2 separate regions of the Homo sapiens genome follow, and region 1 is reported to be linked to region 2. The links are microRNA targets in miRTarBase. Many come from high-throughput screens and were not tested one by one. Region 2 holds a microRNA gene; the other region holds the end of a gene's coding sequence.
What was found. Region 2 holds the annotated microRNA hsa-miR-2909 (GUUAGGGCCAACAUCUCUUGG, at 1,219-1,239, shown strand). A microRNA usually pairs through its seed, bases 2 to 8, with sites in the 3' UTR of a target mRNA and lowers its output. Matches are read on the target gene's strand: a 7mer-m8 pairs with bases 2 to 8, a 7mer-A1 pairs with bases 2 to 7 and ends in A, and an 8mer does both.

Region 1 (3,409 bases), not on the chromosome of region 2:
ATCAACTTCATCTCCTTCTTCTCGGCGCTGGCTGTCTACTTTCGGCACAACATGTATTGTGAGGCTGGAGGTGAGGCCAGGATAGGATCCACAGGCGGTCATGAGTGGCTGCGGGGCAGCAATGATGTTTTTGATAATGGGCAATGGTCTTGGGGACTGGCTGCCATTGTGTTCTCTGTGGCAGACCAATGGTGGTGTGATTTATCAAGAGGCCTCTGAGCGGGTAGCTGGAAGTTCACCATGTCCTGTTCCTTGTGTCCTCACAACAGTGTACACCATCTTTGCCATCCTGGAGTACACTGTTGTCTTAACCAACATGGCGTTCCACATGACGGCCTGGTGGGACTTCGGGAACAAGGAGCTGCTCATAACCTCTCAGCCTGAGGAAAAGCGATTCTGAACCCTTCAGTCCTGCTTGGGAGGACGCAGCCCACTGCCCAGAAACAAGAAACACGATACCATTCTGGCCTTCCCCACCCCACATCCTCTCTTGGCCTTACTGAAGATGGGGGAAGGGTAAGAAGGAAGGGTGTAGGCCAAGGCTCACCCCAGTGCTGCTGGCTTCTCCTCTCCACCCCTCATATGGGCGTGGGGTCCTCAAACATCACCTTTACCTGAGAGGCCCCAAGAAGCTGAGCTGGCAGAGAGCTCCACCATTTGGTGCTAAAAAAAAAAACGTCCTGAGGTTCATGACCACCATCCAGTTTCTGGCCTTTACACAGTCACCTTTCACTGAGGTCAGGAGCCCCTGAGCAGTGGCTGCTCCCTGACAACCACAGCCATTTCTCTGCACGGGGGTCATTCATAGGACTAATGTATTTCATGATCTACTGTGCACATCCAGGCCTGTGGCCACAGTCCCCTGCTAAAGTTGCTCAGGTGTTCTAGTCCTGACTTCACCTTTTTGATTTGGTGTGTGCCCTAGGGTATGTACCCTTCCCCATCTGAGCCTCGGTGTGTCCATGTGTCTGGCGGGGGATGGGTGGACTGTATGATTTCCAAGGACTCTACCAGTCAGTGGTTCTGATGTCATCGGGTGGAGGTGGTGTTCTATACCTAAAGGATGACCTGCTCCAGAAACAGCACCAGCACAGCATGTATTTTCTTCTCTTCTGAAAGTTCTGGCTTGTAGACCCCTCCCCTCCTTTGCAAAGGTATGGGATAGAGGGGTCAGATGCAGATCTCTACTGTAAAATGGGCTCCCTGGTATCTCCTGTCTTCCCTACTGCTCCAAACCCTAAATTTTGGTTGTACATTTTATTTGAAAGGAAAATAAATTTTTTTTTTGGGCCAACAGTTGCCTAGGCTTGCTAGTCTTGGGGCTCATCTTGTTTGATAGGAACTGGGAGAGAAACAGGCTCAAGAATGGGGAGGGAGTAAGTCCACGGCAGGGTATGATTCCTAGCAGAACCCCCCAGTCCCCCTTAGGTCTGGAGTCTCCTAAAGCTGGTCTAAGCCTTTATTTTGGTGAGCAGGAGTGAGTGAGCTATCTGTAATGATTCTAGGACTGCAAGCTAGGGTACCTGGAAGTCTTCAGTTGAGACAGAGACCTGGGTTCAAATTCCAACTCTTGTTGTTAAAGCTGTCCTCTTGGGGATGTGAGGTACAGCTGTCACATGCATGACTGTGGGAGCATCTGCCTTTAGACTAATGGCTCTGAACCTCTCCCTTTCTGAGCCCTAAGATCAAGAAGTCTTTCCTCAGGTTTTGTGTCTGAGTCCACTACAGCATCTGTGACTGGGCCCCAGAGCAAGACTGCCCCCTCCAAGGGAGCCTAGAGCTTTGTTAGGGAAATTGAGGGGTGAGGGGACCACAATGAAGCCTATTGTCTACTAGAAGAAACAAAAGGCTCCCAGTCTCTGGGGAGCCCTAGCCCATGCCCACCCGCTAATGCCCAGCACACAGGGAGGAGCCGGGGCCACTGGAGACAGGAGGTTTTATTGATGCTGATGGGGGTAGGAAAGGTCCCCAGAAGCATGGGGGCTGAGTCAGTCAGCAAATGCGTAAGGCCTAGGCACAGAGGAGCAGGTTAGGGCACATTCACCTTCTCAGGATTCTGTGGCTCCCTCATTGGAGAAGGGAGAGAGCATCTTGGGGGCGCAATTCCAAGAGCAGCGAGGGCAGAGGTTAGAGATGGCTGAGAGCCCCTAACCTGAGGCGGCACCACAATAGGCAGCAACAACTGTGTGGAAAGCTGGATGAACTGGTCAGTAGCGGAAAATGGGAGGGGGCACTGGGTTGGCCTCTTGGGGAGGGGTCCAACCTTGGCTTGGATGAGCTCATGAGAATACCCAGTGTTCCCAAGCAGAGGGGGGCAGAGCCCAAAGCCCCTTTCTCTGCAGGCCTCCTTAAGGAGAAAAAGGCACTCAGAGAAAAAGGCATTCAGGGAACCCCCTGGAAAGGGGTGCCAGAATTAGTCCTTAAGGCACAGCTGAGGCGGACAAGGCACCAAGGCACAACTGGTGGGGGGAGGGCAGGGGCAGCCTCCAAGCCAAGTGCCAGGGTCACAAGAGGATGCAGGACCGCCCACGCTTGATCGGCGTGGGGTTGAGCACAGCCCGGACAGCCTCGGCGAACACTTCCTTGACACCATCCTGTTGCAGGGCTGAGCATTCGAGGTAGCGCACAGCGTGGATCTGCTTGGCCAGTGCCTGGCCCTGCTGCGGTGTGATGGGCGCCTGGCCCTGCTCCTTGAGGCGCCGTAGGGTGTCAGGCTGGGCTCTCAGGTCCTTCTTGGTGCCCACCAGCAGGATGGGCACATCAGGGCAGTGGTGGCACACCTCTGGATGCCACTTGTGCCGCACGTTCTCATAGGACGGCGGACTGGCAATGGAGAAACAGATGACGAAAACGTTGGTCTGAGGGTAGGAGAGTGTACGGAGGCGGTCATACTCCTCCTGGCCCGCAGTGTCCCACAGGTTCAGGTTCACTGTGCGCCCGTCAACTGCGCTCTGCGCGCTGTAATTGTCGAACACGGTGGGGATGTACTCTTTGGGGAAAGCGTTAGTTGTGTAGCAGATGAGCAGGCACGTCTTGCCCACAGCCCCATCACCCACCACCACGCACTTGATGCTCTGCATCGTGGGTGCAGTTGCTGTAGTGGAGGCAGTGCCTCCTCTCTCTTCTGGACCCCTCTGGCTGCAGTGACCTGTGGACAGATGAAAGGGGACATTCTTGGTTAGGGAGGCCTCTGCCTATTGGGAAGAAAAGATGGGGGCACACAAAGGGAAACCGGCTCCTGTTCCCTTAACCTGACACTATCCCAAAGTCCCATCAAGACGGTCATCAGAAAGACACACAATGAAAGGCCCTGAGGCCAAGCAAAGAGGCAGTATAATGTGGTAGAAAGCACATAAACTCTGGCGCCAGACAAACTAAGGTCAAATCCTGATTTTGCTATTTCCTAGCT
Region 2 (3,409 bases):
GGTATTTAGAAACCAAGATCTAGGTACTAGGGGTGCTCCTTGTTAGTGAGTATTGCTATTTCTAGACCTGTCAGCAGAGACGGGAAGTGTATGTATATACACTCACACCTACACAGAAGACAGCCACTTTTAACATCTTACAGCATTTCATTTCAGTTTTTGTAAGTTCCCTTTCAGTATTTTCCTGTTTTTCTTTTTTATATTGAAATTATATTCAGGAAATGTTTTATATACTGAGAGCATTTTCATGTCGTTAAAATAATTAAAATTTTTCAATGACGAAATAATATTGTTATAATATTTATTTAGCCATTCACTGATTGTTGGACATTTAAATGGCTTTTAATTGTCATCATTGTAAATAATGCTATGAGAAGCATTTTTAAACATATTTACCAAGTGAAATTATTGGTCATAACATAGGCACAGGTGGTTTTTGCCAGTTTTATCCCTCAAACTACATATAAACTTTTTATTTTAGAGTATTTTGTTTGCTACCAAATGCCATCAGATTTTCCCCTCCTTGTCTGAAAGTATGAGATCTGCAAATTTTGACAAATACTATTATTATTTTTTATTTGGTTTATTCAGTACTTTGAGCACAAAACAGCCTATGGATGGTTCTGAGTACATTTGTGTCTGGCTTTGTGACCACATCTGCTATCCTGTGCTTTGCAAGTGAATGTCTAGATATGGCCATGGTTTTTTGTTCATTTCTGGATCCAGTCTGTTTAAAAATTGCAGAGTAAAGTGAGTGCATCTTAGATTCCCTGTCAGGATGCTGTGAAAAAATTATATCAAGAAGAAAGCAAAACTAGATTTTGAAAATTAAACCAAACCCTTTAAGGTTACGTTATTATCCCAGGCATAAAATGAAATCTAGTTTAGATATTAGTGGTATCTTTTGATCATAGTACTATGAAATCATTCAGAAATCAACTTTATGCCATTCTTAGTTGGAATTTTACTTGAATCCCTTGAGGTGTACTTAGTTTTTCCAGAATCTTACCAATATTAACTCCTAATTTTTGAAGGTCTACTATTTGCTAGACATAAAAATTATTTGAAAATGACTCTATTAGGATTAATTTGGGTATGGCCTATAAAAAATATAAAACCTGACTACAGAGGCATAAGGAAATGGAAGTTCATCTTTGTGACAGGATAATTCTAGGGGTGGTAGGCAATTGTTGTCCATGGCTTTTGCTTCTCGGTGGTGTTAGGGCCAACATCTCTTGGTCTTTCCCCTGTGGTCCCAAGATGGCTGTTGCAACTTAACGCCATCAAACATGCATTCAAGGCAGGAAGAAGAGGAAAGAACTGTGCCAGCCATACCTGTTTGTTTTTAATCAGAAAAGTAAAACCTTCCCCAGAATTCCCTTCAGCAAACTTTTTGTATTTCATTGGCCAGAACTGTGTTATGTTGCCACTCCAGGTAGAGCAAGCAAGGGAGAAGGGGTTAGGAATGTGTTTGCTGGGTGACAGTCCTTGTGACATTTATAAGGAGAAAGGGCTATCCCTTGTGGACTGATTCCTAATTACCAGCATTGTTCTCCAGCTGGTTTAGCTACTTAAGGAATGGAATAATAGTCTTGTAGCTGGAGAACTGAACATTTGTTTTTACCAAAGTGCGCACCATTCTCATTGTGTTTCCTAAGGATAGGGAGACGTGTCCATATCAACTGCTCAAGCTTTATGGTTTGAATAGGCCAGATTAACTATGGGTACAGTAAATAGGAACTAGCTCTCTCTCCTAGTATCAAAATTTTTAGGGCCAGTAGGTATTGTTAACTTTATCTTAAGTAAGAAGGAAGTAGTAATAGCTTATCCTCCTTTGTTTTTTTTTAGTGGAAAAACAAAAGTGGAAGTAACCTAGTACCATTCTATTTTGTGTCCCATTTGTACACCACAAATAGGAAGCTTTCATAATTGTTAGAATATCAATATCACTGCATGCTACTTTTCCTCAAGTAAATACTTTTGGTTTTCCTAAGTTATACATATGTCATTCTTGGTGTGCCGGGGGCATAGAGAATTTTTTAAACTGATTTCAAGGTAGTGAAGGACTTTATAAGAATGACCACAGGGCCAGAAACTAAAAGGTAAAATATTAATAGACCTGACTACATAAAAGTCACATTGAAAAAGACATCAAAAACAAAGTTAATAGGTAAATGATGAACTTGAACAAAAAAATTCCAGCAGATGACATATTTTTCTACTATGTAAAGAGTTTTTACAAATGTCTAAGAATATCCCAATAACAATAATGGACACAGCATATCAACAAGAAGACTTAAAAATCAAAAAAGAAGGTCGGGCACAGTGGCTCACACCTGTAATCCCAGCACTTTGGGAGGCTGAGGCGGGCGGATCACGAGGTCAGGAGATCAAGACCATCCTGGCTAACACGGTGAAACCCCTTTTCTACTAAAAATACAAAAAATTAGCCGGGCGTGGTGGTGGGCGCCTGTAGTCCCAGCTACTGGGAGGCTGAGGCAGGAGAATGGCGTGAACCCAGGAGGCGGAGCTTGCAGTGAGCCGAGATCGTGCCACTGCACTCCAGCCTGGGCGACAGAATGAGACTCCATTTAAAAAAAAAAAATCAAAAAAGAAAAATTTCAAGGGCCAAAAACCATAAGCACTTTCAACCTAATCAAAGAAATGCAAATTAATATAATGAGATTTCTTTTTATTATTTTTTTTTGAGACAGAGTTTTGCTCTGTCACCCAGGCTGGAGAGCCATGGCACTATTTGGGCTCACTGCAACCTCCGCCTCCTGGGTTCAAGCGATTCTCCTGCCTCAGCCTCCCGAGTAGCTGGGACTACAGGCGTGCACCACCATGCACACACGCCCTCCTTTTTGTTGTCCTTATTCAGTTGGAAAATATTAAAAGGATTAGTAATACCCAGTGTTGATGGTGTAAGGAAAAATGCACCTTTGCATACTGTTTTTGGAAATGTAATTGGCAAAATCTTTTGGGAGGATTATTTGACATTGTGTTTCCAACTTTTTTTTTTTTTTTGAGATGGAGTCTTGCTCTGTTGCCCAGGCAAGAGTGCAGTGGTGCAATCTTGGCTCACTGCAATCTCCACCTCCTAGGTTCAGCAATTCTCCTGCCTCAGCCTCCCATTGGTCAGTCTGACCTCAGGTGATTTACCTGCCTCGGCCTCCCAAAGTGCTAGGATTACTGGCGTGAGCCACCATGCCTGGCCCTGTTTCTGACTTTTAAATGTGTCTGTTAACACAGAAAAATCTACTTGTAGGAGATAGTCTTTAATAGTTGCCAAATACATTTGTGTTAAGGATCTTTATTGCAGTATTGTTTGTAGAAAAATAAAAAATCCAAATGACCCAAACTAAATAATCACAGTAAAATCATTCAATGAATTTATTATTTTTTTTTT

Region 1: miRTarBase lists RHOG as a target of hsa-miR-2909. Seed matches in the 3' UTR shown: 7mer-m8 at 2,030-2,036.

The regions. Positions count from the first base shown.
Region 1 is chr11:3,825,059-3,828,467 of GRCh38, forward strand. It overlaps RHOG (ras homolog family member G), which reads right to left. Exons shown (of 2, transcript NM_001665.4): 2 at 1,920-3,148. The coding sequence starts at 3,080. The coding sequence ends at 2,505. It overlaps PGAP2 (post-GPI attachment to proteins 2), which reads left to right. Exons shown (of 7, transcript NM_014489.4): 6 at 1-70; 7 at 270-1,313. The coding sequence ends at 400. Among named protein-coding and RNA genes, the nearest start is that of RHOG, 14 kb to the right of the region's middle.
Region 2 is chr17:37,032,530-37,035,938 of GRCh38, forward strand. It overlaps MIR2909 (microRNA 2909), which reads left to right and starts at 1,216; the gene lies at 1,216-1,284. The region is part of intron 11 of AATF (apoptosis antagonizing transcription factor); the gene reads left to right.